Homo sapiens: one gene and its partner. The protein of the gene in region 1 interacts with the protein of each later gene in a pairwise test. Each region holds a gene or a part of one and is shown in the gene's direction. Other genes may lie near its edges.

Region 1 (3,809 bases):
TGGCCATTGGGCAGTGCCGGGTGCCAGGCCCTGAAGGGGTCCTGGAGACAGAGGGGCTGGGTGTAGAGGTGATGCTGGGCAGCAGAGAACCTCTGACTTTGGTGCAGAGCATTCCCCTTCCCCAAGCTTGATAAACACCCAGCCTGCCCTGGTCACTGAGCAGGGACAAAGGTTCACAGAGGTGGCCCCGTCACAGCTGGACACTATTGACTCTCCTTGGCACCAGACCTAGCATGTCCTTGGCTTCAGAGGATGCAGCTTTCCCTTCTCCTCTCTATCAAAGTTCTCTGAGCCCCTGCTGGGCACCAGCGGCCAGTCCAGGCACTGGGGACGCAGCAGAGACATGGAGTGCACTGTCTCAGGGGGAGACAGGCATTAGCTGAACCTTCGCAAGGCGGTGAGTGTCCCAGATGGAGAGAGCAATGGCAGAGAGTGCAGGGGACTCCACTTCCTTATTGGTCAGGATGGGCTGGGGGGGTGGTTGTCTCCTTTCCCACTAGATGGGTGTGAAGTCCAAGGCAGTTAGGCACATGCGGGTGCTCTGGGACCCCAGTGGTCTGCTTCCACTCCACGGATTATCACCAGAGGGGCAGGGCCTTGGCCACCAGGATGCTCAAGCATCAGGGTGCAGGTGAGAGGGTTGCGTTCAAGCCTGTGCCACTCACAGGGCAGTCAAGGCTCAGAGGGGTTTGAGGACTGGAGAGTGGAGGAGCTTTAGGTGGGGAAACAGCTGCGCAGGCAGGCACTTTTTGGTCTTTGACTGTTTTGCCTACATGCTACACTTGCCCAGTTAAAATGCAGGCGGCCTAGTTAAATTTGAATCTCAGGTGAAATAATTTTTAAATGTAAGTGTGTCCTATCCAATATTGGGAACATACTTATATTAAAAATAGTTTATTTTTTAAATCTGAAATTCGAATGTAACTGTTGGCTTGTATTTTTATTTGCGTAATCTGGCAACCCTCTGGAAGCCTCAGCAACATGAGGGTCAGAGGGCAAATGGCTGTTCTACCCCCATTCTGTGACTCAACAGGCGTGAAGCTGAGGTCAGGAGTCCTCAGATGTACAGTGACTCCTATGATGTTGACGGTGGGCTGATTCAGGGCTTTGGCCCTCCTGGGGTCCAGAGAGCCTCCTCGCGCATGCCCTTCTCTCATACTCACCCATACTCAGTTGTTCACAGACATATGTGCTATTTTCCAGGATAATTCTGGAAAATCTGTTTGAAACCAGAAGTGCCCCTGGTTATGCAATGGGCTTGGAGAGGTCTCTTTTGCAAACAGGTGGTGCAATTTCAGAAAACACTCTTGCAGGCACAGCTCTCCTGGGGGATGGAAGCAGGATCCAGGCGTTTGGCAATAGGAGGCTGTGGGCAGGCAGCTGAGGGTGGGGTCAGAGGCCTGCGAGGTGGCAGGTGAGCACTGTCCTTCTGACCAGGCCTCCTGTGTTCCTTTCCTGCAGCCGCCACCGGCACGGCCAGGCCAGCATGGTGGACCACTTACTTCCAGTGGACGAGAACTTCTCGTCGCCAAAATGCCCAGTTGGGTATCTGGGTGATAGGCTGGTTGGCCGGCGGGCATATCACATGCTGCCCTCACCCGTCTCTGAAGATGACAGCGATGCCTCCAGCCCCTGCTCCTGTTCCAGTCCCGACTCTCAAGCCCTCTGCTCCTGCTATGGTGGAGGCCTGGGCACCGAGAGCCAGGACAGCATCTTGGACTTCCTATTGTCCCAGGCCACGCTGGGCAGTGGCGGGGGCAGCGGCAGTAGCATTGGGGCCAGCAGTGGCCCCGTGGCCTGGGGGCCCTGGCGAAGGGCAGCGGCCCCTGTGAAGGGGGAGCATTTCTGCTTGCCCGAGTTTCCTTTGGGTGATCCTGATGACGTCCCACGGCCCTTCCAGCCTACCCTGGAGGAGATTGAAGAGTTTCTGGAGGAGAACATGGAGCCTGGAGTCAAGGAGGTCCCTGAGGGCAACAGCAAGGACTTGGATGCCTGCAGCCAGCTCTCAGCTGGGCCACACAAGAGCCACCTCCATCCTGGGTCCAGCGGGAGAGAGCGCTGTTCCCCTCCACCAGGTGGTGCCAGTGCAGGAGGTGCCCAGGGCCCAGGTGGGGGCCCCACGCCTGATGGCCCCATCCCAGTGTTGCTGCAGATCCAGCCCGTGCCTGTGAAGCAGGAATCGGGCACAGGGCCTGCCTCCCCTGGGCAAGCCCCAGAGAATGTCAAGGTTGCCCAGCTCCTGGTCAACATCCAGGGGCAGACCTTCGCACTCGTGCCCCAGGTGGTACCCTCCTCCAACTTGAACCTGCCCTCCAAGTTTGTGCGCATTGCCCCTGTGCCCATTGCCGCCAAGCCTGTTGGATCGGGACCCCTGGGGCCTGGCCCTGCCGGTCTCCTCATGGGCCAGAAGTTCCCCAAGAACCCAGCCGCAGAACTCATCAAAATGCACAAATGTACTTTCCCTGGCTGCAGCAAGATGTACACCAAAAGCAGCCACCTCAAGGCCCACCTGCGCCGGCACACGGGTGAGAAGCCCTTCGCCTGCACCTGGCCAGGCTGCGGCTGGAGGTCAGTATAGCGAGTGACAGGCCTGGGCAGTGAGCACAGCCACTCATGTCTGCTTACTTGGGTGTGCAGCAGGGCCATTTTCCACCATTAACAGAAGGTAGATGAGGGAGGGGAGGGAGGGGCAGGCGGGTGCAGGCCCAGAGCTGGCACAGTTGCCTGGAGGCTTCCTTGGTCCTCCTGGTTCCTGAAGCCGGAAGCCAACTGGTGTCCAGTTTCCTGATGGCCAGGTAAGGCTTCACTGGCCTGTGCTGCCAGCTGGGTCTCCCCATCCAGTCTGACAAGGGTGGGGATTGAGGGGCTGGCGAGGAAGGATGAGTGCGGTCTAGGGGCCAGGCAGCGGCTCCCTTTGGGCCCACAGCCCCACAGGGTAAGTACCACCATCACTCCCAACTTACATCACAGGACACTAGGGCTCCGACTGGCCAGGTACTTGCCCAAGGTCACTCTGCTTTGTGAATGGGATTTGAACCCAGAGGCCGGATTCGAGAGGTCACATCCTGAAAATGCTGCTTCCCCAACCAGTGGGACTAGCTTCATTCACAGATGTCTCTGGACACATGGGCTGGGCCTCGCCTATGCTTCCTCCCTGGGGACGTGGAAGCATGTTTGGGAGGCTGCAAAGGCCAACCCAGAGGGAGGCTAGGCCAGCTGGTGGTGCTGTCACAGGTGGCAGAACCCAGGCTGTCTGGTCTGCATGGCAGTGGGGAAATCAGGCCTCAAATGGTAACTGGTAGTCTCCCAACCAGGGAGCACCCTTCCCTGAGCACCGGGTGCTGCTCAACCTCCTTGGGAGTGGCTGTCCACCTTTTCCTGAAATGTAGGCTGCTTGCGAAGAGCTCATGTGCTCCGGGGTGCCAGAGCCAGCCCTCTGCAGTTCCTGATGCCCATCCCAAAGGAATCTCTGGCCTGCCTGGGGGGCGCTGTGTGCTGTTGGCACATTCCAAATCTTTGCTGCTGTGGCTGCTGCTACGTGTGTGAGACGGGGCACACTCATCTGTATCCCTGGGGGTGTATACAGGCCTGGGCCTCGCCAGCAGGTGTGTGGCTGTGTGTGTGCACACCCACATGTGTATGCATCTTGCTTTCTTTGTGTCTGTCTGTGCCGTGTGACCATATGTGTTTGCACACATACATGTCTTAGGTGTTTGTGCACCATGTGTGGCTGCCTGTGTGTGCATGTGTTATGTGTGGGTGCAACACCCGGGGAGCAGTTTGCAGCTTTTGTTTTCTTGACCATACTC
Region 2 (3,909 bases), on another chromosome or scaffold:
TATACTTTCTGTGTTGTAGTACTGGGTCATTCGTATGTGAAGACAAAGGCAACTTCAACTTGATATTTCTGTCATCCCTGCTGTGGGAAGAGTCCTTTTCCTGGTTTATAACATCAATCATTCTCACAATAAATCTTAGGGTGGATGTGGTCATTTAAATCTCCACCTGCACAAACAACAGAAAATAAGAGAGCTCATAAATCTCTACACTGGTGATTAACAAATTTTGGATCCTCAGCGAAGATATTATGGAAGAGGGGTCGCTAATTCATTAATAAAGACTGATTTGCTGACAACCTGTTTAGTTTACAGCATAGGGGGAAAGCAAACAAGACCCTGCTAGCAAAACAAAACGTTAGAGGTTAGTGAATTCCCAGCTGAGCCTAGGATTAGAGATATGATATCTTAATGTAGGAGAAGCCTTCAGACCCTAAGCCAACCACTCAGAAACCACTCTTACATTTTGCTCCAGCCCCTCAACTTCAATGCCTACCTGCAAGGGAAGAAAACCTGGCAAAGAAATTGTAAGAGAGATTTATGCCTTCAGTCTCCCTGGTTTCATTGCACCAATTTCATCCAATCCCTAGGTTCTGTTTCCCTGTGCTTTTTCTACCTACTTCCCAGGAGACTTTCTTATTCTCTAGGAAAGGTGGTTCGAGCTGGGGTTAAAGATGGAAAAGAACCTTTCTCAAAAGGATAGTCTTGCTTTGTGTTGTGTAATGTCAGCTTCATGTGAGGAACACTGGCACCTAACAGGCTGGAAGAAGACAAAGACAGCAGCATTGAAAGGGACGGTGCATCACAAAAAGTGCCAGGCAAGGTGATGTCTGAGAGCAACAAAGACTCTCAAGGCAATATTAAATGCATTTCTAGAAAAGAAAAAAAAACCGAGGGGAAAGTTTCCATTTATTAGGAAAAGATGATCAACTAACATAATGTTTTCCACACACTCATACTGCCCTCTCATTCCCTACCCACTCCCACTAAGCTGTGTGTGGTTGGGTTTGAGTGTGCAAATCAAGTATGTTTGTGTACACGTAGGCAGTCCTTTGATGTCTTGAAAATGACCAGGTGTAGGTGAAATGTTTTATACTTACTTTTCCATCACCATAAAGATTCTAGGAAGCACTTGTCTTCATTTATCCCGGGGAAGGTGGAAGATCTCGGTAAAGCCTTGGAGTCTTATGAGGTGTTGGCAGGATGCGGTTGATACTCCCTGTATTTTAATTCGTGTTTTCTTGGGAGGAGAGAGGGCATGGAGTGTAGGTGGAAGGCCCAGAAAGAGCCAAACGATCTAGTCGTTTTTCTAAAGTTCTCAGTAACAACCAGTTGTGACGTCTTAAGAGAGAAAGAAGGCCTTTTACAGATGGACAGAACATGCTGCTTCTCGGCCCCGGCCACAGTTGGGAGAAGGTGGCTGGTAAGTACATGATGCAGTTGAGTTGATTTACATTACAAGTTGCAAATCAGGGTCTGTGCATTGAGTTTCCCTCCGGTTGTGAAAGGGGTCTAAGCGCTTTGCTGGGGCCTGGCAGGCCCCTCCCTGGGCTGCAAGGATCCGCCCCTCTATTCCCCAGATAAATTCCTAGTGTCCACCAAATTCCTCAGCGCTCGCTCACCCTCCTCTACGGCCACGACTCTGGGAGTGGGGAAACAGAGAGCCGGTTCCTCTGCTGCAGAAGTCCTCGGGGTTCCTTCTCACAACTCTGCGAAGGGGAAAGGGTTGTGAGACCCAACCAGACCCCAACTCCAGCTCCCAGCAGGAGGTGGCTGCGCCACACTCGGGAGGCCTCTTGGTTTCAGGGTCTCTCTGTCTCTCTCTCACCCTCTTCCTCGCTTTCTCTGTCTCTCTGTCTCTCTCTCTCTCTCTCCCTCGTCCACTCCCCCAAACATGTCCACCGGCTCCCTCAGCGATGTGGAGGACCTTCAAGAGGTGGAGATGTTGGAATGTGACGGGTTGAAAATGGATTCGAACAAGGAATTTGTGACTTCCAACGAGAGCACCGAGGAGAGCTCCAACTGCGAGAATGGGTCTCCCCAGAAGGGCCGCGGCGGCCTGGGCAAGAGGAGGAAGGCGCCCACCAAGAAGAGCCCCCTGAGCGGGGTCAGCCAGGAGGGGAAGCAGGTCCAGCGCAACGCCGCCAACGCGCGAGAGCGGGCCCGCATGCGAGTGCTGAGCAAGGCCTTCTCCAGACTCAAGACCACCCTGCCCTGGGTGCCCCCCGACACCAAGCTCTCCAAGCTGGACACGCTCAGGCTGGCGTCCAGCTACATCGCCCACTTGAGGCAGATCCTGGCTAACGACAAATACGAGAACGGGTACATTCACCCGGTCAACCTGGTGAGTGCTCCCGGGGCTGCAGCTGCAGTCCAGGCGCGCCCGCACTCCCGCCTGCGGTGGGCGCGAGTGCGCGCGGGGCTGGGAGTGGGGGTGTGGGCGCGGCGGTGACTTACACATCTCGACCACCGCGGGCCTAGAGCCTCCAGGGACCGGAGGCGGGCGGTCTAGACACGGCCCTCGCTCTCTGCCCTACCAGCCCCCGGAGCGGGAGTGATTTATGCGAGGGTTTGACGTGGCAGCCCAATTAAAAGTTTGCAAGTGTGTTGAGCTGGCACAGAGGAGGGATCCCCCGCTCCCGCTCCATCGCCATCCTCCCTGGGGTGCAGTGGCTGCTGCGGAACTGAGAACACTGACAAGACGCTGCGAGCGGACAGGCATTTTGTTAATCCTTTTTTCTTCTTTTAGCAGAGAGTGGAACTTGATTTTCCTTTCCTTGTAAATAAAAACACCCAACTCCGTTTCTTTCACAAGCATATTTAGGACCATTGGATAAGGACACATCTATGCCCCCCAAATTGTCCACGTAAGCCCTTAACCGCTTAAATATTCTGTGCTTCTCCTATAAGTGGATTAATATTTTTAAATCCCAGAAGTTCTAGTAATGATCAGCAAAATCAGTAAATCCTCACTAGTATGAGTGTAATAAATACTAAAATAGGTCACTCTCACCCAAGATTTAAGAAATGTTACCTTTTATCTTAAAAAGTAATGCCCATTGAGCCTAATTTTTTAACACAAAAAACTGATAATCATTGAGTCTACTTTTTTCTCAAATGTATTTTACTGTTTAAGAAATATATCTTAATTTTTTTCATTTGATTTTATTTTAAAACTTCTAAGATCTAAAGAAAAACAATAACAACAACTTACTAGGATCTCTGTTTGTATATGATAAGAATGAGAGATTTTTCCTTTTAAAAGGCAAGTCTTATCAGCTAGCACTAGAGCAGTAGTGAGAGGGGTCTGAATTGTCTTCTCACCGAATTGGTTTCTGGAATTGCTGGAGAAGAAGATGCAAACCCACATTTTACCATGAAAAATGTTTTCTCTCCAATTGAAAGTTTGGGGTTTTTCCCCCCCAATGAGTAAATAGCTTTTTAAAATCTCCACCTAAAATGAAAGTGTTGCCTCGAATATTTACAACTGCTACTCTCTTCATCTTTGAATAAGAAACTTAAATGAGCTTTATTATAAAACAGCCCGGAGAAAGGAAGAGAAAGCATACTTTCTCAGTCCAGCATGAAGACGATCTTAAATTAAAAGTCAATGTAGTATAGCATTTTTTTTTCCTTAAGAGGTGGTGATTAATCTAGAAGCTGTAGTCAAAGCCGGTGTTTGCGATGGAAGAAACGAAAGTCGGACTAGGGAAATAGATGGTGATGAAAGGCGATGAAAGCGACAGGGCCCTGAAACCCGACCACCGCCTCAGAAGGAGGCCAGGAGGGCGCTTCGCCCCGAACTCGGTGCCCAGTAGGCACAAGGTCGTTCTGGGCTTCCCGGCTCAGACTGCCAAAGCGTCTGCCTCCAGGCAGTGCCACAGCACCACCCACTCTCCCACTCTCGGCTTG

Evidence for each region.
Region 2: the proteins of KLF15 (region 1) and TCF21 interact in a two-hybrid assay, tested with the Homo sapiens proteins (one large-scale study listed by BioGRID and IntAct).

What each region holds. Positions count from the first base shown.
Region 1 is NC_000003.12:126,350,600-126,354,408, reverse strand, and holds part of KLF15 (Krueppel-like factor 15), read left to right. Parts: intron 1-1,461; coding exon of another isoform or gene 1,462-1,486; coding exon 1,487-2,568; intron 2,569-3,809. UniProt on the Homo sapiens protein: Transcriptional regulator that binds to the GA element of the CLCNKA promoter. Binds to the KCNIP2 promoter and regulates KCNIP2 circadian expression in the heart. Is a repressor of CCN2 expression, involved in the control of cardiac fibrosis.
Region 2 is NC_000006.12:133,887,507-133,891,415, forward strand, and holds the start of TCF21 (transcription factor 21), read left to right. Parts: upstream 1-1,606; 5' UTR 1,607-1,891; coding exon 1,892-2,341; intron 2,342-3,909. UniProt on the Homo sapiens protein: Involved in epithelial-mesenchymal interactions in kidney and lung morphogenesis that include epithelial differentiation and branching morphogenesis. May play a role in the specification or differentiation of one or more subsets of epicardial cell types.